Regions from separate parts of the Homo sapiens genome. Here regions 2, 3, 4 and 5 are each reported to be linked to region 1. The links are microRNA targets in miRTarBase. Many come from high-throughput screens and were not tested one by one. Region 1 holds a microRNA gene; each other region holds the end of a gene's coding sequence.
Evidence for each region. The annotated mature microRNA hsa-miR-766-5p reads AGGAGGAAUUGGUGCUGGUCUU and lies in region 1 at 3,734-3,755, opposite strand. An mRNA with a match to its seed (bases 2 to 7 or 8) in the 3' UTR can be bound and repressed. Matches are read on the target gene's strand: a 7mer-m8 pairs with bases 2 to 8, a 7mer-A1 pairs with bases 2 to 7 and ends in A, and an 8mer does both.

Region 1 (6,011 bases):
CTGAAAATGCTGCCCAAGGGCCTAAGCATGTCCAATCTTTGCCAGGAGAGTTGATCTGGGCACAATTCATCCCTACTCAGGGACCTAAGACATATCGGGAGCCTCGAATCCACCCCTAAACACTTTCTGGGAGGACATTTCCCCTGGAGAGACCCCACAGCTTCAGCCACATGACACAGAAGAGCCAAGGGGTGGCGAATGCAGAGAGCTAGACTGAGGGAGGAGGTGATAAAGAAAAACCACGTTGTAGCACTCCCTCCTCCTGGGCTCTCAGCTGTAAGTGATGGAGGAGGAAGGCATGTGAATTGGGAGGTGCTTCTCTGAGCTCGAGGAAAAAAAAAACCAAGAAGAAAACAAAGGCATACAAAAATGTCAGTATTCCCTCGGGCCTGTTGCATTTTTACCATCAAGAGACACCGTCAGAATGATAGGGTGACTTGCTTCCCCCTCTTTCTCAAACTGCTGTCATTTTATTCTTCTAGCTCAAAAACATAGCCCCAGCCCTCCCACAGCACGCTCCTTTGCAGCTGGCGTCAGTCTGCTTTGATAAGTATATGCAAGGTAGGCATTTCCCAGCGCTCTCCTTTGGTTTGATTTTCACAACATCCTTCTATGGCAATGATTAAAAGATCCATTCGTGAGCTGAGGGAACTGGGATACATGGAGGTTAAACGAGTTGCCTAGGTCCCTAACCCCCATGCCCAGATCCTCTGAAGCAGCAGCGAGGCCACCGAGCTTTGGCTGCCAACCTCTCCCAGCCACCTAGGGTGGTCCGCACTCTGCCTCCTGGCTACATGGCATCTGCTAGAAGGAAGCAAACCATGACAAGCAGGAAATCATGGGGACCAGGCTCTGGCCCTCTGTTCCACTGCTTTTGAGAGACAGATGGCTTTGACAACCAGAATAGAGTCGAGCAGAGCAGAGAGCAGATACCCACCCTCCCCCCGCACCACCACGGACCATACTTCTAGGTCCTACCAATGGGATCCAAATCTGAGGCCAGGCTTTCTGCTATTTTTCCCAGGTCTCTGCAGGAAACTGACAGACAGTGGTGACATTTTCTATGTGTGGACCCAGGGAAGAGACTCTGATAGATGCAGGGCAGTGTTGCTGCTGAAACACAAACAGGCCTCTCAGGAGAGTCTGTGTGACTCTCTCACTCAGACTTCCAATGAGGCGCCCTCGGATATCAGATTTCCCAGTGTCAGAAAACTCCAACAAGAGATAGTCGCAAGCCTTCCTTGGGAGTCCATTCCTAGATTCACCATCTGTCTTAGTGCATTTTGTCTTGCTACAGTAAACTACCTGAGACTGAGTAATTTATCAACAATAGAAATTTATTCAAAAAAAAAAAATTTATTCCTCATAGTTCTGGAGGCTGGGAGGTCCAAGATCAAGGCACCAGCATTCTGGTCTGGTGAGGACCTTCTTGCCGCATCCTCACACAGCAGAAGGACAAGCTAGCCCAACACTGCATGATGTCTCTTTAAAAAGGGTCTTCGGCCAGGTGTGGTGGCTCACGCCTGTAATCCCAGCACTTTGGGAGGCCAAGGCAGGTGGATCACGAGGTCAGGAGTTCAAGACCAGCCTGGCCAAGATGGTGAAACCTCATCTCTACTAAAAATACAAAAATTAGCCGGGCGTGGTGGCGGGCGCCTGTAATCCCAGCTACTCGGGAGGCTGAGGCAGAGAATTGCTTGAACCTGGGAGGCGGAGGTTGTGGTTAGCCGAGCCAAGATCGCACCACTGCACTGCAGCCTGGCCGACAGAGCGAGACTCCATCTCAAAAAAAAAGGGCCTTCATCCCATTAACAAGGGAGAAGCCCTCATGGCCCAATCACATTTTTTTTTTTTTTTTAAGATGAGAGTTTCGCTCTTGTTGCCCAGGCTGGAGTGCAATGGCACGATCTCGGCTCACTGCAACCTCCGCCTCCCGGGTTCAAGCGATTATCTTGCCTCAGCCTCCTGAGTAGCTGGGATTACAGGTGCCTGCCACCACGCCCAGCTAATGTTTGTATTTTTAGTAGAGACAGGATGTCGCCATGTTGGCCAGGCTGGTCTTGAACTCCTGACCTTGGGTGATCCACCCGCCTTGGTCTCTCAAAGTGCTGGGATTACAGGTGTGAGCCACCGCGCCTGGCCAGGCCCAATCAATTCCTAAAGGCCCTACCTTTTTTTTTTTTTTTTTTTTTGAGACGGAGTCTCACTCTGTCGCCAGGCTGGAGTGCAGTGACGTGATCTCAGCTCACTGCAACCTCCGCGTCCCGGGTTCAAGTGATCCTCCTGCCTCAGCCTCCCGAGTAGCTGAGACTACAGGTGTGTGGCACCATGCCCAGCTATTTTTTTTTTGAGATGGAGTTTTGCTCTTGGTGCCCAGGCTGGAGTGCAATGGCGTGATCTCAGCTCACCACAACCTCCGTCTCCTGGGTTCAAGCGATCCTCCTGCCTCAGCCTCCTGAGTAGCTGGGATTATAGGCATGTGCCACCATGCCCGGCTAATTTTGCATTTTTAGTAGAGACGGGGTTTCTCCATGTTGGTTAGGCTGGTCCCGAACTCCCGACCTCAGGTGATCCACCCGCCTCGGCCTCCCAAGTAGCTGGGATTACAGGTATGAGCCACTGCGCCTGGTAATTTTTTGTATTTTTAGTAGAGACGGGGTTTCACCATGTTGGCCAGGATGGTCTCGATCTCTTGACCTTGTGATTCGCCCACCTTGGCCTCCCAAAGTGCTGGGATTACACGTGTGAGCCACTGCACCCAGCCCCGACCTCTTAATACTATCATACTGGCCACACCTGAATTTTGGAGGGGACACAATCAAACCATAGCACCACCTTTACTGACTTGTGTCTAACTTAAATTCTTCTTGTACATTGTAAAGTACTTAATAATCCAATTGGCGTGAGTTACTTTATTCTTATTTCACCACATCCATTATACTTGGGAGGCTAGGTGACTGCTTAGCCCAGTGAAATACACACTGTCAGAACTCTTTATTCCTCATCTAATGATAATATTCTGATTGGGCTTGGTTTCCTCCCAGGGTGGACAGTGTTTCCCAGTTATGTTAGTCCCCATTTCAGGCCCCTGCTGGTGACTGAACAAGACCATTGGCTGATTTGCTCTCAAGTCAACCACTGGTGATTCCTGTAAAAGTACATGGCAACAATGGAAATACCATTGCTGTCTCAGAGGAAGGGATGGACTTGTGCCTGTGGGTCTTCCTATGACCCTACTGTTCAGCCATGTGTTCTCACTGGGCCCAAATGTCAATTGCCTTTGTGGGAACCAAACCCCAGACCTCACAAATGGACAATTAATGGAGCTCAGTCAATTAAGTAACTGGGCCTTTTTGCTGGTCCTGGCCATGCTTTCAGCCATTCAAAGAACATCATTAAATTTAAAATAACATAGCAATTCTTAGTATTAAAGTCTACAACCTTGAGAGATATCAGAGCATGGGTTGAAAATAGCATGCAACAAGACCTCGCTCTCCCTTCTCTTCCCCCTCAATCTACAATAAGGTTTTCTGGAGCCACCCATAATTCAAGGTGGTGGCAGGGACCTCATTACTCTCATTTCCTGCCACAAAAATCCCCCATGGTGAGAGACAGGACATTGTACAGTCTTCTCCACTCAGGCAACAGATTTCTTCCGCTTCTTCCAATCCAGCTCCTATGACAATTGGCTGGGGTGGCTGAGGCTGTGGGGCTGGAGTCAAATCCAAAATGAAAGACCAGCACCAATTCCTCCTACCACCCAAGCCCAGGTCCTGAGGATGCAGCTTCATACACCACGGCTTGTGTGAAGACTCTGGGGACTTTTGACATAGTTGTTCGGTGGCAGGCAGGCTAAGCAATCCTCTGTGTATATTTGATAGCACCCTCTTTCCCATCACAGCGCATGTAACACAAAACACTCACATGCAAGCTCCTCTCACAGGCATGCCAATTCAGGCACACTAGCTGTGAGGCCACTCCTCTCTTTCCCACTCAAAAAAAACCCATAGTGGATTAGCCGGGCATGGTGGTGCATGCCTGTGGTCCCAGCTACTCGGGAGGCTGAGGCAGGAGGATTAGTTGAACCCAGGAGGTGGAGGCTACAGTGAGCTGAAATTGATTGCATCACTGTACTCCAGCCTGGGCGACAGAGTGAGAGCCTGTCTCAAAAAAAAAACAAAGCACAGTAGGATGCAAGGGAGTAAGTGGTGAGTGATTTATGATAGGGATAATCCTGAATCCACTGGAATTCCCTGCTCCTCTCCTCTCCTCCCCTCCCCTCCCTTCCTCCATTCCTTCCTTCCTTCCTTCCACTGGAATTCCCTCCCTCCCTCCTCCCTTCCTTCCTTCCTTTTTATTTCTTTCTCTCTTTCTCTCTTTATTTACTTTCTTTTTCTTTCCTTTCCTTTCTCTCTCTCTTTTTTTTTTTTTGTGAGACAGGGTGTTGCTCTGTCACCCAGCCTGCAGTAGTGCAGTGGCTCGATCAGGGTTCACCGCAGCCTCAACTTCCCAGGCTCAAGTAATCTTCCCACTTTAGGCCACCCACCGACCAAGTAGCTGAGACTACAGGTGTGCGCCACAGCACCAGTTAATTTTTTCTTTTTTGAGATGGAGTTTTGCTCTGGTTGCCCAGGCTGGAGTGCAAAGGCGAGATCTCAGCTCACTGCAACCTCTGCCTCCTGGGTTCAAGCGATTCTCCTGCCTCAGCCTCCTGAGTAGCTGGGATTACAGGCATGCGCCACCATGCCTGGCTAATTTTGTCTTTTTACTAGAGACGGGGTTTCTCCATGTTGGTCAGGCTGGTCTCGAACTCTTGATCTGAGGTGATCCACCTGCCTTGGCCCCCGAAAGTGTTGGAATTACAGGCGTTAGCCACCGCGCCCGGCCACTAGTTAATTTTTTTTAAATTTCAGTAGAGATGAGGTCTCACTATGTTGTTCAGCCTCGAATTTTGTTTCTCAAAGTGAAACACAATTATGAGTAATAAAGGACCCAGAATCCCTTCACAGCCATAACAGCATGCTTGACAACTGCTGCTGCCTAGCTTGGGGGTTTCCAGCCTTGAGGTTGAGCCTACCCTAGGCTTAGCAGGAGGCCAGAGCTGAGCTGAGAACAGAGCCCAGGATGATTATCACTCCTAATCCATGAGGTACCAAGATGTGGTTCTGTGTGACACCTTGAGATGGCTGAGTACTCTCAGTCCCTATTTATTCTTAGCAAAGCAAACCACAAGCCTGCAAGCTGCTTGATGACTTAGGGCATCAGTGTTCAGAAGGTCTCTATGGGGACTGATGTCCTGAGGTGACTAGACGCTTCCAGACATCAGTGCCCGTGGCACCCAGATGACACTTCTCGCGAGGCTCCCGTTTTTCTGCAGACTAGGCTGTCTCTTCATAACAGAGCCTAGTTTCCATCAAAATGCCCTGACTTCTCGAGAGGACAAGTGCTAATCTTTTTTATTTTTTCCATGCCCACGGCCGGTCAGAGAAGACCTATCTCTACCTACCATGCTCCAGATAGCCTTACCCTTGAGCCAGATTTGTCTAAGATGGTGATGGTGATAACAAACACATCTCGGGTGTACTGATGGACAGGAAGTCAGGAGAGACAATGACTTGCTGCCCTGCTATGCTAATTTGTTGGCCAATTCATAGGAGGTGGCAGCTGAAGTTGTAATGATAACTTAGAGGGCAGTGGCAGCAGGAAAGTTTTCTAAAAATGGCTTTTATTACAAGGCTTTCCTGAGTTTGGCTATACCCAGGCATTATGTCATTAGGAAAAACTGATGACACTCAATAGAGAAAAAGAAATCTGTTCCTAAAGCGGAGGCTTTCTGAAAGCTATTAGCTGTCTCCTTGAAATCACAACATTGAAGATTTCACAGCAACAGCAACACATTGTAAGGAAGCATTAGGAGATGTTTGCATCTCTGCCTTCTTTATTACTCATTTCTCTAGTAGGAGAAAGTGGGGGAGGAGAGGAAAGATGGCAAGGTTTTTTATTATTATTAT
Region 2 (6,011 bases), not on the chromosome of region 1:
TTGGGGGCTCTCTGCCATGCCTGGGCCTCCCCTTTGTCAGCCACCTTTCTTACTTGAAAATTTGGGTCAGGGTCCAGATGGTCTCTTAGCCCTGGGTTGCTGTAGGGCATGTGCCCCCCCTTCTTACCTCTGAGTCCTGAGGCCCTGAGGAAGGGTGGCTGGTGGCCAGCCCGGCCCCACCCTGGTCTGTTTGTGTTGCTGGTGCCAAGAGCCAGGCCCAGCATGTTCTTCCTGCCAGGGGTGAGTGGGAGAGGGCGACCCAGGCTGGATTCCAGAGCTGCACCTGCATTCTGGCCCAGAGCCCCCCTGCTGGTGCCAGCTGCAAGGGGAGACCCTGCTGAGGGCAGGCCATCAAGTGTGACTTCTGCCTGCCTTCCCCCAGGGCCGCCTGCCCCGGTACCTCATCCACCAGAGCCTCGCGGCCACCATGTTTGAATTTGCCTTTCACCTGCGACAGCGCATCAGCGAGCTGGGGGCCCGGGCGTGACTGTGCCCCCTCCCACCCTGCGGGCCAGGGTCCTGTCGCCACCACTTCCAGAGCCAGAAAGGGTGCCAGTTGGGCTCGCACTGCCCACATGGGACCTGGCCCCAGGCTGTCACCCTCCACCGAGCCACGCAGTGCCTGGAGTTGACTGACTGAGCAGGCTGTGGGGTGGAGCACTGGACTCCGGGGCCCCACTGGCTGGAGGAAGTGGGGTCTGGCCTGTTGATGTTTACATGGCGCCCTGCCTCCTGGAGGACCAGATTGCTCTGCCCCACCTTGCCAGGGCAGGGTCTGGGCTGGGCACCTGACTTGGCTGGGGAGGACCAGGGCCCTGGGCAGGGCAGGGCAGCCTGTCACCCGTGTGAAGATGAAGGGGCTCTTCATCTGCCTGCGCTCTCGTCGGTTTTTTTAGGATTATTGAAAGAGTCTGGGACCCTTGTTGGGGAGTGGGTGGCAGGTGGGGGTGGGCTGCTGGCCATGAATCTCTGCCTCTCCCAGGCTGTCCCCCTCCTCCCAGGGCCTCCTGGGGGACCTTTGTATTAAGCCAATTAAAAACATGAATTTAAAAAAAAAAAAAAATTCCAGCCCCTCCCACTGCCTTGCCTCTTGAGGGAAGAGAAAGGCAGGCAGCAGCTTGGATGAAGAGGGAAGACCCCTCACACAGCCTCTCCTGGGCTCACAGGAGGGCGGAGCCCGGGGAGCCAGTTCCTGAAACATGCCCCCCATTCCCCCCCCGCCCACCCCCCACTCCCCGCTTTCCTGACCAGTTCAACTGAGCAGATGACTGGTCAGAAAAAAATGCCCCGCCCCCTGCCAGGCTTCAGCGGGGCAAGTTTAAAGTCTCTAGTCCAGGAATGGAGGTGGGGGTATGGGCACCTGGCAGTGCCCACAGCAAGCCTTGACTGTGTGGCCTGGAGATGGGGCCTGAGCTTCAGGGTCACTGAGGCACCTCTGGGATCCAGGCCACCTGGAGCCCCGGACCTCCCAGACTCCACTCACCCATTCCCTCTCCCCGCACGGCACTCACACCAGGGGCGGCCTGGAGCCCGGATCGCAGGGCGGGGCCAGGCCACTGCCTGCCTTCCTCCTCCCTCCCGGCTGGCCTGCCCCCTTGCCTGCCTGCATGCAGGCTTCCAGCAGAGCCAGCTTCTTCAGAGCCAGGTGGATCCTGTTTCGGTCCTGCCTAGGTGTGTGACCCTGGGCGAATCTACCTCTCTCAGCTTCTGCTTCCCACTTTATGAAAATGGGACTGATGTCACAGGGTTGTTATGAGATTAAAAGATATGAAGAACCGGGGACAGTGCTCAGTAATCAATAGTCTGCAGTTCTGCACCCACGTGCTCCTGGGTACTCTGCCGTCCCCACAGGGTCCTCAGCTCAGCCCCTGTCACTGCCTCTCCTGCCACCCTTTGTCCACTCGGCAGTGTTCTCACTCCTCATCCCCCCACACCCACCACCTGTCTGCCAGCCTCTTGCACCATGAGTTGCTACTCCTGGGGTGCTGGACTGTCCCCACAGCCATCTGTCTCCCCTGCTCCCCATGAAGAAGAGCCAGTCCCCTCCCAGGTAGCACATCAGAGCGGGCAGGCTCCAGAGCTCTTCTGGTCCTCTTGCAGTGGCCAGAAAGTGGGGAAAGGGGCCCAGAGAGGGGCAGGGACTGACCCATGGTCACACAGCCTATTTATGGCTGATCTGGAGCCAGGCCTTCTGACTATCACCCATCAGAGCCCCTGGATTCCCATTTCACCCAACACAGGTGTTGGGGTAGAACTGGGGGCCCTCCACCCCTACTAGCCTGACTGTCTCCTGAGACCTGTCTCCTAAGACCACTTACCTGACCACTGGCCATGGGGAAGGAAAACACCTGGCCAAGGCTCATGCCCCAGGTTCCCAGGCATGAAGTTGACTGTCTCCGCCCCTGCTGGTGTGGTGAGGGTGACTGGGGACTAGGCACTAGGCCTTTGGTGCAGGCGCCTGAGGACGTGGTTGCACTCTCCCTTCTGGGGATATGCCCTTGAGCCCAGGCAGAGGAGAGCACAGCCAGGGCAGGACCTGGCAGCCCTGGTACAGAGCCCAGAGGGGGCATCAGTTCCTGCTGGTCCTGCTCTGTTTACAGACAAGCTGCTGTCCTCCCTGCAAAGGGGAGTGGGTGGGGCAGAGGGCAAGTGCCAGGGGGGCACAAGGCTGGGCATGTGGCTGGCATGAGACGGTGTCTGAGTAATGTCAGGCACCTGGAGGCATTGACCCCAGGACCTTGGACCCCAGACCTCTGACCGGGGGGCAGCCAGCGTCCAGGTACCCCAACCCCTGCCCTGGGTCCGGCGTCCCCCCATTAGTGAGTCTTGGCTCTACTTATAGCATCTGACACCAGAGGGGCCGAAAATAGCCCCTGGAGAAGGGGGAGGAGGGGGCTATTTAAAGGGCCTGGGAGGGGAGAGAGAATGAGGAGTGATCATGGCTACCTCAGAGCTGAGCTGCGAGGTGTCGGAGGAGAACTGTGAGCGCCGGGAGGCCTTCTGGGCAGAATGGAAGGATCTGACACTGTCCACACGGCCCGAGGAGGGGTGAGTGTGGGTCTGCTAGAGCCCTGCCTCTGCTCCCCCAGAGCACCCTCACTGAGCCATGAGGCCAGAGCATGAAGCCCTGGAGAAATTTCTGGGGGTGGGGGCAGGAAGAATGCCCCATGGGGAGAGCAAAGGGGAACCACCCTTCCTGCCCCCAGGTCCCAGCAGCCCAGGGGAGCCCCCCACCCAGCCTGTGCCCAGAGAGCAACAGCTCCCAGGAGCTCACTGCCCCTCCCCTCTCCCCAGCTGCTCCCTGCATGAGGAGGACACCCAGAGACATGAGACCTACCACCAGCAGGGGCAGTGCCAGGTGCTGGTGCAGCGCTCGCCCTGGCTGATGATGCGGATGGGCATCCTCGGCCGTGGGCTGCAGGAGTACCAGCTGCCCTACCAGCGGGTACTGCCGCTGCCCATCTTCACCCCTGCCAAGATGGGCGCCACCAAGGAGGAGCGTGAGGACACCCCCATCCAGCTTCAGGAGCTGCTGGCGCTGGAGACAGCCCTGGGTGGCCAGTGTGTGGACCGCCAGGAGGTGGCTGAGATCACAAAGCAGCTGCCCCCTGTGGTGCCTGTCAGCAAGCCCGGTGCACTTCGTCGCTCCCTGTCCCGCTCCATGTCCCAGGAAGCACAGAGAGGCTGAGAGGGACTGTGACTTGGGCTCCGCTGTGCCCGCCCTGGGCTGGGCCCTTCCTGGCTAGGACTGTGGAGGGGAGCTGCTGGCCATGGCTGCTTTGTAGTTTGCCCAGAGTTGGGGGCTAGGGGAGGGGGGAGCCAGAGGCCAGGATGCCTGAGCCCCCTGAGTTCCCAAAGGGAGGGTGGCAGAGACAGTGGGCACTAAGGGTGGAGAGTTGGGGGCCAGCACAGCTGAGGACCCTCAGCCCCAGGAGAAGGGACAAAAGGTACTGGTGAGGGCAAGAGGTGCCTGGGAGGAGTGGCCCTGATCCAGGAAAATGTGAGGGGAATCTGGAACGCTCTAGGCAGAAGAAGCTGGGAGGGAGGGGGAGGTGAAAAGGGCAGAGGCAAGGATGGTGGGGCCCCCAGCACCCTCTGTTAGTGCCGCAATAAATGCTCAATCATGTGCCAGAGTTGCATCTCTTTCCTTGTGGTTGGGGGGGCTGGCCCATGGGTGTCCCCTCAATGCCCACTTCTGGGACCAGGCTCCGCATCTGAGCTAAATATGGCAGAGCTAATGGGTACACCCCATACTTGGGGTGGGGGTGGGGGCAGGACAGAGCTGTAAACAGGGTGCTGTCTCCAGTCTCCTTCCCGTACCCTGACCGCTGCCCAGTCCTGGCTTCTGTGTCCAGCCCCCTGGCACTGGGTGGTAACCAGCAAGCCAGCTGGCATCCGCATCCAGGGTTTGTTTCAATGATGTCTCGTGGAGAATATGGAGGGGCTGGTGCCAGGACTGTCCTTGGCTTTGCCTCGGGGTGTGAACGGGGTCAGTGACCTCTAAAACTAACCTGCCTCTCAGTTCTGAATCCAGACAGAATCAATCCTCAGCTGTGTCTCGCTCCACACCCCCTGCCCTGGAAGCCAGGGAAGGTTGGAGGTGCTAGGGGGTCAGGCTCCCCTCTGTGACCCCTGCAGCTGTTGTGGTGACTCATGTCCCAACCTAGCTGCCTCTCCCAAGGAGACTTTCCCCTGGGGACAAGGGGGAGGGAATGGCATGGAGGAGGCCCACATCAAGCGGGGCCAGGAACCCACGGTGGCAGGAGCTGGGCTGGTGACCTACCCAGGGCAGAAGGGCCCGGGACTCATCCAGAGGGGAAGGAAGGGGTCTTCAGGAAGACCACGGAGATGCCACAGGCAGAATTGGCTTCCCATCTGGGAGATAGGTGGGGAGACCCTGGCATTTTGACAGCCAGAACCTGGGGTGCTGAGCAGAATCTTCATGCCTGGCCTGGCCGCTCCTTCGGAGGGAAGCTGGAGGGTGGGCTGCGAGAGGAGTGGGGTCAGAGCCCCTACATCCGCAGGACCCCAAATCGGCTGGGCCCCAAGGCCCGGACTGCGCTCCCCGGTGGCCCCGGCGGCCCTCCGCGAATGCGTCCTGCCCCTCCCCTGCCCAAGCCCTCTGCCCTCACCCGGGTCCGGCGCCGCCCCCGAAGTGGCGGGAACAACCCGAACCCGAACCTTCTGTCCTCGGGAGCCCCCAGATAAGCGGCTGGGAACCCGCGGGGCCCGCAGGGGAGGCCCGGCTGTTCCGCCCGCTAAGTGCATTAGCACAGCTCACCTCCCCTATCGCGCCTGCCATCGGACGGGCAGTGCCGCGCCCTGCTCTGGGGCCCCCGGAGCGACCACAGCGGAGGCCGGAACGGACTGTCCTTTCTGGGGCGGGGTGGGGAGGGGGTGTCGCTGGAGGGCCCGGTGGCATAGCAACGGACGAGAGAGGCCTGGAGGAGGGGCGGGGAGGGGGAGTTGTGTGGCAGTTCTAAGGGAAGGGTGGGTGCTGGGACGGGTGTCCGGGAGGGAGGGGAGCCTGGCGGGGTCTGGGGCCTCGTCGCGGAGGGCGCTGCGAGGGGGAAACTGGGGAAAGGGCCTAATTCCCCAGTCTCCACCTCGAATCAGGAAAGAGAAGGGGCGGGCTGCTGGGCAAAAGAGGTGAATGGCTGCGGGGGGCTGGAGAAGAGAGATGGGAGGGGCCGGCCGGCGGGGGTGAGGGGGTCTAAAGATTGTGGGGGTGAGGAACTGAGGGTGGGGGGCGCCCAGAGGCGGGACTCGGGGCGGGGCAGGCGAGGCGGAGGGCGAGGGCTGCGGGAGCAAGTACGGAGCCGGGGGTGTGGGGGACGATTGCCGCTGCAGCCGCCGCCCCACTCACCTCCGGTGTGTCTGCAGCCCGGACACTAAGGGAGATGGATGAATGGGTGGGGAGGATGCGGCGCACATGGCCCCGGGCGGCTCGGCGGTCAGCTGCCGCCCCCACAGCGGACCGGTCGGGGCGGGGGTCGGGCGGTAGAAAAAAG
Region 3 (6,011 bases), not on the chromosome of region 1:
ATCTGCCTGACATTGGGTTGTAGTCATTAGGCAGAGAAACTTGAAACATTGAAGGGACCAAGGAGAGAAGTCAGGTGGAGAGAAGTCAGGTGAAATGGCTAGGAAGACAGGAATTTGGATTGTACTTCTCTTCAGGCTAATATCACCCACAGTTCCCGTATCCCTGGGATCCGAAGGATCCCTCCCTGTCTCTATCCGGGGATTATGAAAGCCCTACTGAGGATTTTAATTTAGGCAGTATTTCTGGAAGTGATATTTTCATTTCACTTGGCTTTAGACTTGGAGCCTAGCTCTAATAAATATTTAAAGATGATATTGAAACTAGAATTTTCAAGTTAGATACAAAGCATTTGTTGAGCAGCCGTTAAACCCGGGATTCTAAGGAAATACAACACAGCTATTATTTGTGTTCATGCTTACAGCGGAGCATTGGAAGGGGAAGATGAAGGTGGGTTTGCTGCAAGGTGAAGTTGGGGGTCAAAATCGTGGTTAGTGGGGGTTAAGGTTAGTACTGGCTTTTGCAGAAAGGGGCAAAAAAGAAGTTCATCATCTTTGCTTGCTTTTTGCTTTTGCAAAAGAATGAGAATAAGAAAAGCAAACAGAATGCCTGGGACAGGAACCCTTGTCTCCTTCAGACTTTTTGTGGCCTCAGTGTCTTCTCCGATTGATGGATAATTCACTTACCAGTCTCAAGATTCCAAAGAGAAGCATCACCTGGATGCAGGAGGTGGGAGGTAATTTCCCTCACCTCATCTTGAAATAATCCATGTGGGAAGTTGTTATCTAGAATGCCTGGGTTCTAGAGGGCAGATGGGCTCCAGAGGGGGCCTTGATGCCTGGTGTCTCAATGGGACATGAAGTTGCAGGAAGAATTAAAAGCTTGCCAGGGGCAGGGTTCTGGGAGGAGTAAGATCAGTTGGGGTAGGTTCCAAGACAGTGGTGAGTGGGGACTGGGAATGCTGGATTCCTGGGTTCTGAGGGTTGCTCCCACAATATGTCTGGCTTAATTTCTTTTCTCACTTGACCATAGCTGTGGCATTTATAGTTGCCACCAGGCAGGGGAGGCCGTAACTTCTGGACGCTCCCTCTCCAGGGAGGGGTATCTTAAGGCCATGACAATATGAGGGAAGAAGGAGGGAGCGGGAGAGAACAAGGGAATCACATCTGTGGGAGGAGAGGAGACCCACCCTCCCAGCCAGAGGTCAGCAGAAACCTGTTTTCTCTGGGATGTCTCATTTCTGGGACAGAGGCCTTTGTAGGAGGCAGAGGGGAGAAAAATGAAGGTGACTGTGTCCCAAATCATTGGATCTTCTTACTTTGCCAGCACCTCTCCAGGGACAGCTGGGCACTGTGAGGGGAGGATGCAGAGCCTGTGACTATGAGGCCAGTTAATGTGTCTCCGGGGACAGAGGCTGGCAGAAAAAACCCTGACCTGGGATACTGGCAGTGAGGCCAGAAGAAGACTCTGGACGTTCAAGGAGCTGGAAAGGGAGGCCTGGACTCTGGAAGAAGGGGCTGGACACCCTCGTGCAAATCTCAATTACACCCTGTTCCTTAGGTGGTCCCTGTAACATCCCACCCGTCCAGGTGGGGCTGCCTTGGTGTCAGAGAACCTGGCTCCACTGAGGAACAAAGTGAAATTGAGGCTTGGAGAAAATAAAGCAAGCCTTCTGTTCCATAGGAGCCGTGTGGGTTTGAACAGGGCTCTTCTCTGAGCCTCGGTTTTCTCATCTGTAAAGCAAGCTTTATAAGAACTCTTATAAGGTCTGTAACTTCTTATAAGGCTTGTAAAGCAGGCCTCGTAACTCGCAGGGTGATCGGAGGATCACAGGTGCGATGTACGTGAAAGCACAGCACAAACGGGTGTCAGTTTTATGGCCAATGTCACGGGGGTAGGAGCTACGCCCAGGCCCGTCAGTCCAGGCCCCTCCCTGGGGGCTGGGGGCTGGGAGGAGGGGATTCGGCGCAGTAGGGCTGGGGCGCTGCGGGGGCGGCGGCCTCGAGCCACTAATCTGAGCTGTCCGCAAGAGATCAGAAGCCGCCCGCAAAGCGGAACCTGGAGGAACGAGGGAGGGCCGCAGTCTCGGGGAACCGGAGCCCCCGCTGCGACTCCGCCGGGACAGCAGCTTCCGGCGCCCCGGCAGCCTCCTGCCCTCGGGGCACTCGCTCCCCCCGAGGTGTACTCCCCGAGGGCTGGGGGAGCGCATTCCCTCCCGTCCTACTGATTAAGTAATTATCCCTAATGAGGGCCCAGCCCCGGAGCTTGTTAAAGGATTTCCGCCTAGATTTCAAAGTGATAATTAGCGGGGAATAGAGAGGAAAGTGGGAGGGAGACACCCGCCGCGCCCCAGGGCCCACAGTCCGCCTTTGCCGGGCGAAGAACCTCCCCATCCCCCTTATACACCCTTTGACCTCCAGTGCTGCATTTTGGTGTCTTGATAGGGGAGGGGTCTGTCCGGTTGGATGTTTAGGACTCTAGAGGCAGAGATGTTTTTATTTCGTTTTGTTTTTGAATTGGGGTCCAGGCTGAGTTTAGGGGTTTCTGCATCCCTCCCAGGGCAGAGAGACACTCCTGTCCTGGCAGATGCCACAGGCTGAGTCACCGTCTACCCAGACAACTAAAATCCAGGCATCTTCCTCCTTTTCTCGAGGGCTCTCCAGCCCCTTCCAGAACCCAGGTGTCCCTCTGCCTCCTTTCTCCAGGGGCCTAAGTCTGGGTCCCTCTGGCATCTGGCATGTCTGCTTTCTGAGAGTCAAGCTTCAATCTTGCCTTTAGCAGAGCGGGTCTCTGGTGGGAGATTCAGTAATAAGGGCCTTCCCAGCCCAGCCAGGGCCAGATAGTTCAGTGACATCAGTGTCAGGGTTGGGATTACTGACCATGATAGGTTTCCAGCTTTCAGCAAATGGGGATGCCCAAAGGAGCAGATAGCGAGTGACCTGTGGCCCTGCTGTTTGATTCTGGATGGAGTTACGTTTAGGAGCCTGGCAGCAAACTGGGGCACCTGTTCAATTAGTGATGATGCCATACTCTGGTAAGAGAGCCAAGGCTGCATGGGTGATGGGAGGTTTCTGTTGGGACTGACATGGGCACACAACGGTTTTGGAGCAGGGCTGGTGTCCTAACATAAATAGGGGGCATAGTAGATGCTCACGGAGTTGGGCTTAATGAATTAGGGTGTTGTTTTATTCTATATAGCACCTAACTTGTGACAACTCTTGTTGAATTATTTAATTTTAATTTTCCTGTCTTTGTGTCTCAGGTGAGAACTATGTCTTATACTTCTTTATATCCTCAACAGAGTATATAATAGTTGCTTTAAAATACTTGCTTATTAATTGACAGGTTTTTCTACTCATTTTGTCACCATGCAAATAAACCCAGCCTGGACTGAGGCTGGCTCTTACCTAAACCCAGAAAGGAGCCATTTTTGGAGCAATAGAAATTCAGCCTCCCCTTTCTTGACCCTCCATAGATTGCCAGTCCTGCCCTCCAGCTCCTCTGTCTCCTCCACTTCTGTAAGGTCTCAGCCAGAGCCAGGAACGCCAGTCAGAACTTTCTCCCAATGGATAGTCTAATAACTATGATGCCCTTTATAAACATGTTATACTTTATTATAAAAAAGGTCAATAGACAGAAGGAAACTATCATCATCATTCTCCTTTTCCCCCTCTACCCAATCAGTAATAAGGTGAAATGGCCATAAGAAGAGAGAGAGAAAATCCAGAAAACACACACAGATGAAATGCCTACAAGGAGGAAAACTTGAATCTGGGGTGAAGGTGGGAGGAGAGAGAATGGGGACAGTAGAGAAGATGGGTAACTTTTACGAGATAAAGCTACAGCTGGCTTTTGGTGGAAGAGACAGGAAAATAAATGCTGAGACACCAATCAGGGAAGGTCTGGGGTGGAGATCAGTGGGTGAGACTGCTGGCCAAATAAAAATCCCCTCCTTGCGTGTCCACCCACAACCCAGCAAGCCAAACCAACAGGGCGTCCACTGTAGACATTTAGGAAAACTAAGGGATTTGGGAGGAAGAGGAAGCAACCATGTAGATGAGAGATATTTATGATTTCTTCTGGACTTTTTTTTCTCCAGGGCATGGAGAGAGTGGAGAAGGAAATAAATTCTCTTTTCTTCTTGGATCCGTTTTTTTTGTTTTTTTTTTTCATTAAAAAAATGGGGGTGGGGGCAAGGGTCCTGAGAACTCAGAGATGAGCCTGTTTACACACAAACTCTTAAGTAATAGTGAATGGAAATAACATAATGCTGTCCTGAAACCCAGAGACTCTGCCCTCAGTCCCTCCCTTTCCCCATAAACCCCACTCACAAGTCAGTCTGGGGCATTGCCTATAAGGCTCCTGTCCTTCCTTTAGGACTCAGTGCAGTGTTCTGCATTGGTGCCCCCACAACATGTCCATCAAACACCTTTTCATTCTCAGACCATTACCTTCTACAGAGAATGTCTGCTCGTATTATTCATTCTTTCTTCTTTGTCCCCTAAACTTACACCCTCCTTGCTTATCACCTCATTCCCCAACCAGTTTCAAGAACAGATGAAGGGTTAATACTGGTAACCGTCAGTATTCTCTGCCCTTCCTGTAGTCCCGGAAATAGAAATTGTGAGTCCGGTTCCTCATCCAGGAAAGGGGCAGAGCATGGAAGAGCCAGGGCTGGGCGCCTACTCCAAGATCACCGTGGGGAAGGGATCTGGCCCATGCCAAGATTCTGCTGCTCCATCAGGTAGACCGGGTAGGAATTGGGGCCACCCTCATCCTCTGCATCATTGTACTGGGTGTTCTGGGTTAGTGTGCGGCGTGTCCGCATCATATAGGAGACCTGTGATTGGGATGAGAAAGGAGGAATGAGAACCATCTGCGATTTGTTTTCCACAACACTCACCTCAGGTCTTGATTCTATTCTCAAGATTCCATCCAAACCTTGATGTTTATTCCAGCTCCAGGTCCAATACAATGAGTCCCAGCTCCATCTCCAGTTCCCCACTCTACCATATTCTCCTTGTCTTTACACCTCCTATTCTCATACCCCAGACTCTCCACCCCCCACACTTTCTCTTTCACACCCTTTCATTCTCAGCCACAGCCTTGTCCCCAATTCCAGCTTTTTACCTCCTGTGTATTTATTGTCTTTCTCCTTAGTTTTCACCAAAACTCTCCCTCTATTACTGTTCCTCCCACTTCTGCCATGTCTCTTTTCCTAGACTCATTATTCCCTGTAACTCTGACCCCTAATGTATCCTCAATTCCCTATCCCATAGGTTGATTTCTGTGGGGCACATCTGTCCCTTACCAAGAAGATCAGGCCAAGGAACACCAGGAGGAGAATCACAGCCACCAGGACCACAATAACTATGGCCCATGCAGGGAATGAATCATTCTCTCCCATCTGTCCAGCGTGGATACCTTTCTGTGAGCCATCTTTATTGAGGTATGGATGGCTCTCGTTTCCTGTGGCTTCTGATGTGATAGAACTCAGCTTCGTTCTAGATGTAATGAGGGTGAAAGAACCAGTGGGCACCTGATGAGTAACTTCAGTTTTATTTAGATGAGAAGAGGTAGTAGTGAGAGATTTGTCTCCTGTGACCTTGACTGAAGGTTTTATAGTCTTTGTGACTGCTGCTGTTTTTTCTGGGTTTTCTGTGGACTTTACTGGGGCTTTTATGGTCTCAGTGGTCAGTGTGGTGTTCCCCAGGTTTTCTGTAGGCTTTTCTGGGACTGGTGTGTTTTTCCCTTTGGTGCATATGGTCTTCTCTGAGTATAGCGTAGGCTTTTCTGGGGTTCTTGTGGTTTTCTCTGTGGTTGACGTGGTCTTTTCTGGGTGTTCTGTGGACTTTTCTGTGACTTGTGTCATCTTCTCATGGGCCAATGTGGTCCTTTTTGCATGTTTTATAGGCTCTGCTGGGGCTGGTGTGATCACATTGGCTGATGTAGCCCTATCTCTATGTTCTGTAGACTCTGCTGCAGATGAGGTGATCTTGTCATTGGGTGATGT
Region 4 (6,011 bases), not on the chromosome of region 1:
GCCATGCGTGGTGGCATGCGACCGTAATCCCAGCTACTTGGGAGGATGAGGCAGGAGAATCACTTGAACCCGGGGACTGGAAGTTGCAGTGAGCGGAGATGGTGCCACTGCACTCTAGCCTGGGCGGCAGAGTGAGACTCAATCTTGAAAAAAATAAAAATAAAAATAAAGAATGTCCCAAACCCAAAACGCTGACAACGCCAAATGCTGGTGAGGACGTGGAACAGGAACCTCAGTCATTGCAGGTGAGGACGTGGAGCAGGAACCTCAGTCATTGCAGGTGAGGACGTGGAGCAGGAACCTCAGTCATTGCAGGTGAGGACGTGGAGCAGGAACCTCAGTCATTGCAGGTGAGGACGTGGAGCAGGAACCTCAGTCATTGCAGGTGAGGACGTAGAGGAACAGGAACCTCAGTCATTGCAGGTGAGGACGTAGAGGAACAGGAACCTCAGTCATTGCAGGTGAGGACGTGGAGCAACAGGAATCTCAGTCATTGCAGGTGAGGACGTGGAGCAACAGGAATCTCAGTCATTGCGGGTGGGAATGCGAGATGGTGCTGCCACTGGCGGAAGACACTTCAGTAGTTTCTTACAAAATGAAATACATTCTTACCACACAATCTAGCAGTTTCACCCCTTGGTATTTACCCAGATGAGTTGAAAGCTTAGGTCCACACAAAAACTTGCACGAGGGTTTTTAACAGCAGCTTTACTCATAATTGCCAAACCTTGGAAGAAACCAAGATGTCCCTCAGTCGCTGAATGGTATACTGTGGCCCATCCAAACAGTGGCATGTCACAAAGCACTCCACCCTCTGTGGGGACTCTGCCTTCTGGAGTGCCCTGGGCTGGACAGGCCACAGCCCACTCCCCACTCCTGTGTCCTCAGCTGAGGAGTGGCCAGTGCTGCACCGGCTCCTGGGGACACTCAGTGGGTACAAGACATGACCCCTTGTAGGTTTGTATCTTGTGGCCTCTGAAACCCCATGAAGTATCAGGAGGAGGAGATATCATGGTGGGATACTGAGGGGTGCAGCCCCCTCCAGGGGCAGAGGGAATGATGGGGGTGCTCAGGACGTGTCAGCAAATGGGAAGGGTCACAGCCGGAAGGGTAGCAGGAGGGTAGGAAGGGCCAGAGGTGGGAACCGGGTAGTTACATCGACCTGAGAGAGATGGAGGGGGCCTGGCCTCACAAGAAGGGGATGCATCGTGGATGTGAGGTTGCAGGAAGGTGGGCTGAGCCTGTGGGCAGGTGTTGGTGCTCCCCTCCCCGACGGGGCACGATGGGGACAGAGCATGGGAGGGAATATGAAGCAGGAGCTCTGTCTTGTACACATGGAATCTGAGGAGCTGACAGATGACCTGTGGGGAGGGTGGTCCCGTGCCAATGTGTGCTGGAAGGACATGCCTGTGCGTTTATCAGCTCTGGGCTGCAGCAGGGCACAAGCGTGGAAGAGCAGCCATGGCAGAAGGGCAGGTTTCAGAGTGGACTCTTGGAACCAGCGCCCTGTGCCCCTCCAGCCACCGTCCCGGAGGGCACCCAGTGACCCGGCTTTCGATGCCATTCTGCCTTGAGGGACGTGTCCAACTTTCCTAAGTGGAACCACGCGGCATGGACTTTTTTTTTTTTTGAGACAGAATTTCACTCTGGTCGCCCAGGCTGAAGTGCAGTGGTGCAATCTCGGCTCACTGCAACCTCTGCCTCCCAGGTTCAAGCGATTCTCCTGCCTCAGTCTCCCGAGTAGCTGGGATTACAGGCACCTGCCACCACGCCCAGCTAATTTTGTATTTTTAGTAGAGATGGGGTTTCACCATGTTGGCCAGGCTGGTCTCAAGCTCCTGACCTCAGGTGATCCACCCGCCTCAGCCTCCCAAAGTGCTAGGATGACAGGCGGGAGCCACCACACCCAGTGACCACACAGCGTGGACTTCTATGTCTGCCTCTTGCTGGGCCGTGAGTCTGGGAGGCTGGCCTGTGGCTGGTGTGCAGGCTCCTATGGCCTTGGGTGGACCATGGCAGCAGGGAGGGGAACAGCGTTGGTGACGAGAAGGCTCTGGGACTGAACCTGGGAGAGGGGAGGAAGGGGCCCCCCTGGGCGTGAGTCTGTTGAGCTCCTGACTGGCGGGCGCAGGCCCCTGTGCCACTGAGAGGTCTCCTTACCTGTGAGCGGCGGTGCCTCCGACGCCAGCCTCGGGTCAAGGTGGGGCCCAGGCTGTTCTTACTATTGTCCTCCAGCGATTTGCAGGACACCTTCAAAACCCTCACGAGTTACCGAATCGGCTGATTCAAAACCCTCACCAGGCACCAAATCGGCTGATGCTCTTGATCTCCGACTTGCCAGCGTGCAGAACTGCATAAATGAACCTCTGTTGCTTGCAAGCCCCCCAGCCTGCGGTATTTTGTTACAGTAGCACTAACGACTAAAACGGCCATGATCCTCCCACCAGGCCTCTTGAAAACTCCGATGCGTGCTGGGGAGAGAAGGACAAGGGCACAGGGCACCTGCTGTGATGAAAACAGCTTTGACCTCGGGACACCCTGGAAGGGTCCTGAAGCCCCCAGGCCACACTTGGAAGAACGAAGCATGTGGGTGTGAGTGGTCCGGGGCGGGGGTGGCAGCCAGCGCTGTTTGCGTTGGGCGTGTTTATAGACTTGATTTCTCTCCACACTTCATTCCAAGAGATAGACACTCAAACTATGAAAATTGTTTTTATTTTAAATCAAAGTACCAGGCAGATACTTGCAAAACAACATACAAAGCAAAACTCAAACATGGCCCTTCCCTAGGGCGCCTCTGAGCAGGCACAGAGAAGTTCTCACCCTCTGCAAAATCCAATCCAATCCTATCTTCTCAGAAAACCAAACCAAAGGCAGCCATGAAAACCCGTGTTCTGTACGTGGTTGAGAAGGTCCTCCTCTCTGAGTACTGGCTGGCCCCAAGGCGCAGAACTGGGAGGTCCAGGGAACCCTGCCCCCGAGGAGCCAGCAGGACCTGGAGGAGCCGGGGGCGGTGCTGACAACAACCTTCCCCACCCACTGCAGTGTGGTTCCCATGAGGATGAGGGCTTCTCCAGGGCCCTTCCCCACGCTGGGGCTTGGAGCCCCTGCCAGAAGCAGCTGGGTTGGCGGTAGATGTCCCCGAGGGCCTTGGGAAGCACTGGGAATGGGCTCCCAGCCCTGGTGGAATGGGGGATTGGGAATTAATTCTGAAGCTGGTTGTGGCTTATTTTTGTATGGCTCTGAAATTAACTTCCTCTCCCTATGCCTCAGTAGCTAAGGGGCAGGGGCAGAAAAGGTCCCAACCCTGTTCTTAAAAAGAAAGGAAATGAACCCACAACCCACTGGAAGTTCTGTTGACGAGGGCTGTCAAGGCAGACGCACTCGTGACTTTGACAAAGGGAAGCAGCTGGAAGGTTGCGGGTCCCAGGGTCACAGGCAGCTGTATTAGTGACAGGTTCTGAGCTGGTGGGTGGGGGCCGCAGGGCTCTCCTGACCCCCGTAGGGTCATACCGCTGCATGCTGCAGAACTCAACTAGAGTGGAAATGAGTTTAAAACGGAGTATGTACATCAAAAGATCAACATCACGCCGAAACCAGCTGACTGTGACAACAGCAAACAAAAATGTAACAGAGAAAACAAACAAGACACAGCCTCAGTAGCTTGACATGGGTGAGGGCAGCCAGGACAGGGCCCTGGTGACAATGGCGCAGAGGTGGGGTCTGGGCCGCTCACTGGACGGACAGCCAGCCAGTTCCCTTCGGAGCAGTGAAGTGGGACACAGGACCCTCGCATTGCGGGGCCTCAGACGGGCCTTCAACTGCCGACAGAATCAGCAGGAGCGTCCAGGGGAATCTGGCACTCAGGGTCCTCCCGGGACATGCCCTGTTGGAGACGGCAGGAGGCCTGGGCTGGCTGCTCCCTGAGATGCCTGCCCCAGGACCCTGGCCTGGAGGGGCCTCAGCCTGGTCTTCCTTGTGAGTCCAAGGCCAGGTCTCAGGACAGCCACAGACAGCCCTTCCAGACAGGCTCTGGGCTCCACCTTCGGCAGCTGCCCTGAGCAGCCCACCCGGGGCAGCCTCCTGAACACCCAGGGGCTCTCCCTTGGACAGAGACCACCAAGGGCCAGCCCAGGGGCTGCATGGGGGCCGGGGGCCAGGGAGCCAAGGGCTGTTCCGTGGCCAAGCAGCCCAAGCTGAAGGGCCCACATGGGAATCCTCGACCTCCATAGTGACTGGTTCTGTTTATGCCTCTGCCCCAGGACTGAAGCCCTAGGGACACACCTCATGGATCTCAGACCCCTGGGAGGGGCCGGCTCAGGGACAGGCTGCCCAGGACCTCCGCACCCGGTCAAGTGCACTCACAGGGGCTCAGGGGCCACCCAAAGAGCTAACTCGGGAAGCCTAGGCACTCACCATTATTTTGGTTGAAAATGCTATAAATCTGACTCTTCCTAGAAGCCTACTAAGCAATTCACTTAAAAACACCCTCAGTACATGTGCAACAATGCCTGGACCACGCCTCGTCTGTGCGGCCCCTGGGCCACCTGAGCACCGGCTGGGGGCGGGGGAGGCAGGCACCCATCAGGATCTGCACCCCAAGCTCCGGGTGCATGTTCCCAACTGGAGGAGAACGGGGCGCCAGCCACACTAAACCTACAGAAAACTGTGGGAAGAAACCAAATCCATAGGATCCAGAGGTTTCACACTTGGGCTTAGCTCCCAAGTCATGAGTTAGTAACGTCCCCAGGGACCTGGCTGGGTGCAGACATGGGGGCCTCGTGACCTGCTGCACCGCGTCCAGCACCTGCAGGGTCGCGCTCGGCACCTGGCTCTGCTTCCTCTGTCTCTGCTGCACCCAGGCTCCCCCTAGCCCCCGCCCACCTGGCTCCTGATCAAGGCCCAATGTGTAAACAGTATTAATAAGCAACAGATGGAAAAATATATTTCCCAAGAAAAAAGGGGGAGGAAACGTGGGACCTGAAGACCGATTTTCCAGGTTGCTCTCGCTGTTCTGTCCCCTTCTCTCTTCTCGTGATTTGTTTTGGCGATTCCTCTCTTTGGTTCTGCAGACCACGTGACCCACCTGCCCGAGCCAGCCCTGCGGCCTCTGCCCGCTCCCTGCTGCCGCGGCTGAGAGACAGCCAGCCCTGTCCGTCCCAGGGGCCTCGCCCTCCTGTCGGCTACTTCCGCTCGTGGTCCTCTGCCATGGCAGCCACCTCAATGGTGGCCGTGTGCTCCTCAGGCCCGGGGGCAGCCCCTGCGGGCACTGTCACAATTGTGCTGGAGCCAGGCGAGGCCTGGGCCACGTTCTGCAGGGTGGGGCCCAGGCCAGGCAACGTGAGCAGCTGTAGCGGGCTGACCACCTTGAACACCGTGCTACCGTCCTGCACGGCGGCCGTGCTCAGGACCGTGAGGCTGGACGCGTCCGGGTGGATCTCCACTGTGCTGGGGTAGGTGGAGCCGGAAGAGGCCAAGACTGTGTATCCCCCGAGCAGCGGGGAGGCCGGGGAGCTGGCGGGGGGCGCCTGAAGGGAACCCTTGCCCAGGACGGTGGACGGCAGGGTGGACACCACTTTACCAAGGGGCACGCTGGTCAGCTGGGGGACGGGCACGCCCGGGCCAAGCGCCAGCTGGGCAGACTGGGTGAGCACCTGCGAGGCCATGGCGGCCGGTCCTGATGTGGCACGTGCAAGCCGGGGCCGCTTCACAGGCGGTGGCAGGGAGACCGGCGTCAGCGTCATGAGCACGTTGCTGAGGTGCTGGGACTTGTGCTTCAGCTCCTTGGCTCGGCGACGATGCTCATCACACTGCTGCTCCAGGGCTGCAGGGAGGTACAGATGGCATCACACAGGGGACGGGGGCATGGATGGCGGCATGCAGGGGATGGGGGCAGACACGCCACACCATCTGGGTGGCCCCTGGGTCAGTGGCAACCCAGGTCTGCTCACCTGATGCCACAAACCCAGATGACCACATGGCCGCCAAAGGTGAGGTCTGTGGGAGACGGGGCC
Region 5 (6,011 bases), not on the chromosome of region 1:
GATTTTTACTTACTGAATGAGGTGTGTTGAGTGTATAAGACTACATGATGAGATGGCAAGTAATTGCCTGAAGAAATGATGTAGTGATTTTGTGTGTCTTATATTTATTTACTTTTTGATCCAGAAATAAATTATATAGATACCACTATTTTGTTTGGATGGGGGAGAAAGGATGGGTGTGTATTCAGGAACTTATGTTACTTTTTTGCAACTAATACCCCTTCTCAGTAGTACAAAGATTTGATTTCTTTTTCTTTCTATTTCCTACAGACTTCATCTGCAGAGAGAAAGAGACGATTACCTGTGTGGTTTGCCAAAGGAAGTGATACCAGCAAGAAATTAATGGACAAAACGAAAAGGGGAGGTCTTTTTAGTTAAGCTGGCAATTACCAGAACAATTATGTTTCTTGCTGTATTATAAGAGGATAGCTATATTTTATTTCTGAAGAGTAAGGAGTAGTATTTTGGCTTAAAAATCATTCTAATTACAAAGTTCACTGTTTATTGAAGAACTGGCATCTTAAATCAGCCTTCCGCAATTCATGTAGTTTCTGGGTCTTCTGGGAGCCTACGTGAGTACATCACCTAACAGAATATTAAATTAGACTTCCTGTAAGATTGCTTTAAGAAACTGTTACTGTCCTGTTTTCTAATCTCTTTATTAAAACAGTGTATTTGGAAAATGTTATGTGCTCTGATTTGATATAGATAACAGATTAGTAGTTACATGGTAATTATGTGATATAAAATATTCATATATTATCAAAATTCTGTTTTGTAAATGTAAGAAAGCATAGTTATTTTACAAATTGTTTTTACTGTCTTTTGAAGAAGTTCTTAAATACGTTGTTAAATGGTATTAGTTGACCAGGGCAGTGAAAATGAAACCGCATTTTGGGTGCCATTAAATAGGGAAAAAACATGTAAAAAATGTAAAATGGAGACCAATTGCACTAGGCAAGTGTATATTTTGTATTTTATATACAATTTCTATTATTTTTCAAGTAATAAAACAATGTTTTTCATACTGAATATTATATATATATTTTTTAGCTTTCATTTACTTAATTATTTTAAGTACCTTTATTTTTCCAGGATGTCAGAATTTGATTCTAATCTCTCTTATGTAGCACATGTGACTTAATTTAAAACCTATACTGTGACACAGAGTTGGGTAAACGATGATTATTTAACTTTAAGCAGTTCACCATCCATTTCAAAGCCTTTGATTGGCTTTTTTGTAAATAAAAATAACTTGTTAAGAAACAAATATATCTGTCATAGAAGAACTAGAAAATCCAGGGAAGTGAGAAAAATGAAAATAAAAATCATTCATAGTTTTACTAGTAGCTAATCACAGTCAACCTCTTTTGTGTATCCCACCAGACTTTTTTATATTCATTTGTTTTTAGTTAAAATATAAAAGTCTCGTATATTCCCATTTTTCTGCATTGCATTACCAGAAGGTAGTGGCGCCTATTAAATATGTGATATGTTGTTGTCCAGCCATGGCTTCTGCATTTGCATGCTTTTGTGTGTGCATCTGCAATACCCTGTGAATATCCTGTGTGATGGAGTGGCAAGTACGCACAGACACGTCTGCTGCATGCCTAGGTACGAGGCTGTCTCCAGGAGAAGCACTTGTTTGATTATTTGAGTTGCCAATTGAATTTGCTGCTTTTTTTCATGGCTTGCCATTTTCACTGAAAAGAATGACTAATGAAAAACGATGATTGGTTATTAGATTTGGATGTTTGGCAGACATTTTCTCAAAATTGAACTAAGTTGGCCTCTTCACGGAAAACAACTGGTATTTGTTGTGCCAATGATAAAATTGGAGATTTCTAGCAAAATGTATAATTTTGGAAAAGTTGTGTTCCTCCACTGGAAGCTTGACAGCTTTCCTTAACATAAAGACTTCTCTTTCTCTTCGCTTTCACTACTACTACTACTAATTCTTCTTCTGATTCTTCTTCTTCTCCTTCTTCCTTCTTCCTTCCTTCCTCCTCCTCCTCCTTCTTCTTCCTCTTCCTCTTCTTCTTTCTCTCTTTCCTTCCTTCCCTTCCCTTCCCCTTCCTTCCTTCCTTCCTTCCTTCCTCCCTCCCTCCCTCCCTCCCTCCCTCCCTCCTTTCTTTTTCTTTCTCTTTCTTTCTTTCTTTCTCTCTCTCTCTCTCTTTCTTTCTTTTTCTTTCTCTTTTTCTTTCTTTCAAGCAGTCCTCCCGCCTCAGTCCCCCAAAATAGTGGGATTACAGGTGTGAGCCACCATGCACAGCCTTACATAAAGCCTTTTCTAATGAGATGGATAGTAATTAACAAATGTGAGTTTTTGATATTATATAAAGATTTTTTCTGTGTTTCGAAGATCCGTATAACTCAGTGAATCAGTATGTTCTGGATGACTAATATGTGATGTTAAGAAATCATGACTGAGGCCGGGCGCGGTGGCTCACGCCTGTAATCCCAGCACTTTGGGAGGCCGAGGCGGGCGGATCACGAGATCAGGAGATCGAGACCACCCTGGCCAACATGGTGAAACCCCGTCTCTACTAAAAATACAAAAATTAGCTGGGTGTGTTGGTGCGTGCCTATAATCCCAGCTACTCGGGAGGCTGAGGCAGGAGAATCGCTTGAACTCAGGAGGCGGAGATTGCAGTGAGCTGAGACTGCGCCACTGCACCCCAGCCTGGCGACAGAGCAAGACTCCGTCTCAAAAATAAAAAAAGAAATCATGACTGGGTAAAAGATCTGTTCAGAGTACAAGATGGACCAATGGATTTGATATATTTGAATATAACAGAGTATGAAAAAGTTTATTGATATAGTTTCAGATTACACACTGCAACTAATCTTTAAGAAACTATTACTTGTCCACTTTTTGGTAAAATTTCAGAGAACAATGTCCACCATTATCTGAACAGGCTATTAAAATACTCTTCTCTTTTCCAACTACGTGCCTGTGCAAAGTCAGATTTTTTTCATATACTTCAGCCAAAACAGCATATCAAAATGGATTGAATGCAGAAGTAGATCTGAGAATACAGCCACTTTTGTTAAGCCAGACAATGAGATTTGCAAAATGTAAACAATGCTGCTGTTCTCAGTTTTTAAAAATATGTTTTTTAAAAGTATTTATGTTAATGTGTACTTGGTTTACTACTGCTATTTTTAAATAAAACAAGAAACATTTTTAAATGTCTGTTTTAATTTCTAAAGTGGTAGTGATAGATATAACCCATATTAATAAAAGCTCTTTGGGGTCCTCAGTGATTTTTTTTTAAGAGTATGGAAGGGTTCTCAGACCTAAGAGATTGAGAAATGCTGATGTAATGTTTTATTATAAAGGTGTACCATGAATTATGTACCTTACTTCATATTGTTGGACATTAAAGTTGCTTTCAGTTTTTTTGTTTTAAACAGCACTGCTTTGACCTTTTTTAAAAAATGAGTCAGGGTCTTGCTGTGTTGCCCAGGTTGGAGTGCAGTGGCTATTCACAGACATGATCATAGCATGCTATAGCCTTGAATTCCTGGGCTCATGTGATACTTCTGCTTCAGCCTCCTGAGTAGCTGGGACTATAGGCGTGCACCACTATGCCCAGCTGCTTTGAACATTCTTGAAATGAAATATGGTATAGTCTCATACCATATCATAGCCAGAGGGGGAGAGAGAGAATTTTGTTGTTGTTGTTATGTTATCTGTAGTGGACTTTATGCCTTCCCAGCATAAATTCTCTCTTTCCCCATTTTTCGTGACTCTTGATTTTTGTTGGGGTTCGTTCCAAGGAGAATAATTTCCATCTGGATATTGGATTGGCACCTGTGACCTCTTCTGAGCTAGACCCTAGTAACAGCGTTTGGATCTGGGGTAGGTGTGTGGCCAACTGAGCTGCTGGTTCATGCCTTTCCTGAAATGAGCCCTACCTCTGAATATTTCAGAAACATGGGACATTAACTTCCCTTTACTTACGTTAAACCCCTTTGAATGAGGAGTTGTTTTTCACTTCCAGTTGTGTTCAGTTGTCACAGAAGCACAGCGATGTGATTGGTGGAAGGACCCGTCAACAGACCCAGAAGATGTAAAGTGTTTTTAATCTCAAAGGATGTGGAATCTCAGAGATAGTTACACCGAGTAGAGGATGAAGCGGCTCCTGGATGGAGGCAGAGGCTTCCTGGATCTTCAAGTTCTGTATGGGTTGTTGTATGAGGTTGGTGCAAAAGTGAGGCAGGAGAATAGGGTCTGGAGGCAAGGAAACTAAGGCCGATTCACACTGACTTCCTAGAACTAAATCAAAAGGAAAACCCCAATTTTCCAGACCTAAATAACAAAAGTACCAGATGGCTCCTCCCTTTCAACTGCCCCTCCCCCACACCTTTCTGCGTGGCACATGGAAAATTGAAAGTATCTCTGGTTGCTTCTGCGTAGGAATGTAACTTTGTAACCAATCAGACGGATCGCAGGCCAAGTCGCCTGCATAGAAATGTAACTTTGTAACTTCACTTTAGCCTCTGATTGGTTGCTTTCCACAACCAATCAGATGCTTGCATAGGGTGTACCTGTTGTGACTTCACAAAGTGGTGGAAGTGGTGGAAGTGGTGGAAGGGTGGAAGGGCTATTTAAATTTTTATTCATCCTCTGATTGGTTGTTTCACTTAAGCCTCTAATTGGTTCTTGAGTCCTGGAGCCTGTGAAGGGTACTTTATTTTCAGTAAATGCATGCTTTTTTTGCTTCATTCTTTCCTTGCTTTGTGCATTTTGTTCAGTTCTTAGTTCAAGACACCAAGAGCCTGGACACCCTCCACTGGTAACAAAAGTAACTGGTGTTTTTGCCATTAGAAGTAATGGCACAGAACAAGTACATGAGAGCGATTTCTTATGGAAAATTAAATGGCGCATAAGTCGTGTGCTCAGGTAAGGGAGCTGGGAACCGGTAGAGGAAGGTCTCCAACCCACACCCGTGGGATCTCTGAGTCTTTGAAAGTCCGTCCTCACCCTTTGTGAAGAATGGGAGCACGGCTGGACTCGTCACCGGGGGTTTTGGGGGGCTGAACTTGTCATTTGAGGGTGTAGGGAGGTTGGATGAATCGCAGGGGTGCAGGGAGGGGGCCCACTGGAGCTCCACCAGGACCCCAGCACCCTAGATCCAAACCTGGTCATGCTTCCCATGCTCAGAGGCAAATCTCCCTCCCCTTGGGGGGCGGAGTCAGACGAGACCCCCTCTCCATCCTTTTCCAGGTCCGGCGGGGGCGGGACTTTAAAGGTAAAAACAGCAATTACTTTTGCACCAACTTATCTTCTAAGTTTCGCTCCCTACCACCTGAGTGTGTTTGGAGGCTCTGGCTCATTGTACCTGCCTGATCACCAGGTGCAAGTAGCTGGGCCAGAAGGACCTCGGCACGTTACGGAATATTTACTACAGGAACAGGTGAGCTGAAGGCGAATTCCCCAGGTGTAGCCTGTGACCATAGATTCAGACAAAGCCCTGACTGTTGCCTGGAATTCAAAAAAGCTGTAGCCCTACCAGATAGAATAAGAAAAGAATATAGGATTCTTCCTATTCAAATAGGTTGCATATAATTAAGAGCATGAACGATCCAATGGAATGAACTCAAAGTAGTTTTTGAGTGTAATAGACTTGAAGTGTCTTATGGAAAAGAATTGCAAAACCACAGAAACAGTGAAGAAGGTTAGTTATAGCCTTGATGGGGTAGCTGACTTCAGCAGTCTCAGCTATCTGAAAAGTTATTTACCAGATTTTGGTTGGGAACATAATCCCTAAATCATTTGAGATAATGTACTTGTTTCCTTACTGGGTAAATGTGTTTAAACCTTGAGAAAATGTAGACATAAGTAGAATATAGAATAAATTAAACCTTTGGTAGTTATGTTTTAGGATTAAGGACTAATAAGTACATATTTGATATTTAAGCATTTGTAATGCTTGAGATAATTTATCCTACTCAAGTAACAGATTACTCTTGTGACTCCAATGTAAAATATATCATTGAAAAAT

Region 2: the mRNA of STARD3 is a reported target of hsa-miR-766-5p. Seed matches in the 3' UTR shown: 7mer-m8 at 1,566-1,572.
Region 3: miRTarBase lists MUCL3 as a target of hsa-miR-766-5p. Seed matches in the 3' UTR shown: 7mer-m8 at 4,030-4,036 and 7mer-m8 at 3,754-3,760.
Region 4: miRTarBase lists GMEB2 as a target of hsa-miR-766-5p. Seed matches in the 3' UTR shown: 7mer-m8 at 4,962-4,968, 7mer-A1 at 4,622-4,628 and 7mer-A1 at 2,994-3,000.
Region 5: miRTarBase lists WRN as a target of hsa-miR-766-5p. Seed matches in the 3' UTR shown: 8mer at 1,877-1,884, 7mer-m8 at 2,001-2,007 and 7mer-m8 at 2,094-2,100.

Annotation. Positions count from the first base shown.
Region 1 is chrX:119,643,066-119,649,076 of GRCh38, forward strand. MIR766 (microRNA 766) reads right to left here and starts at 3,783; the gene lies at 3,673-3,783. All of the region lies in intron 5 of SEPTIN6 (septin 6), which reads right to left. RefSeq lists an enhancer at 4,837-5,016.
Region 2 is chr17:39,662,422-39,668,432 of GRCh38, forward strand. STARD3 (StAR related lipid transfer domain containing 3) reads left to right here. Exons shown (of 15, transcript NM_006804.4): 15 at 383-1,780. The coding sequence ends at 487. TCAP (titin-cap) reads left to right here and starts at 2,928. Exons shown (of 2, transcript NM_003673.4): 1 at 2,928-3,048; 2 at 3,295-4,133. The coding sequence starts at 2,939. The coding sequence ends at 3,688. It also overlaps a transcript of PNMT not described here. RefSeq lists enhancers at 3,347-4,084, 4,085-4,822 and a silencer at 5,866-6,011.
Region 3 is chr6:30,951,798-30,957,808 of GRCh38, reverse strand. MUCL3 (mucin like 3) reads right to left here. Exons shown (of 3, transcript NM_080870.4): 2 at 5,310-6,011; 3 at 3,588-4,838. The coding sequence ends at 4,692. It overlaps HCG21 (HLA complex group 21), which reads left to right and starts at 2,947. Exons shown (of 3, transcript NR_138040.1): 1 at 2,947-3,032; 2 at 5,278-5,447. RefSeq lists an enhancer at 1,417-2,097.
Region 4 is chr20:63,584,909-63,590,919 of GRCh38, forward strand. It overlaps GMEB2 (glucocorticoid modulatory element binding protein 2), which reads right to left. Exons shown (of 10, transcript NM_012384.5): 10 at 2,697-5,821. The coding sequence ends at 5,181. Among named protein-coding and RNA genes, the nearest start is that of HELZ2, 14 kb to the left of the region's middle. RefSeq lists enhancers at 2,570-2,739, 3,333-3,502, 5,420-5,589 and a cis regulatory region at 2,655.
Region 5 is chr8:31,172,725-31,178,735 of GRCh38, forward strand. WRN (WRN RecQ like helicase) reads left to right here. Exons shown (of 35, transcript NM_000553.6): 35 at 271-3,414. The coding sequence ends at 378. LOC105379358 (a long non-coding RNA gene) reads left to right here and starts at 4,351. Exons shown (of 2, transcript XR_007060884.1): 1 at 4,351-4,909; 2 at 5,364-6,011. RefSeq lists an enhancer at 1-524.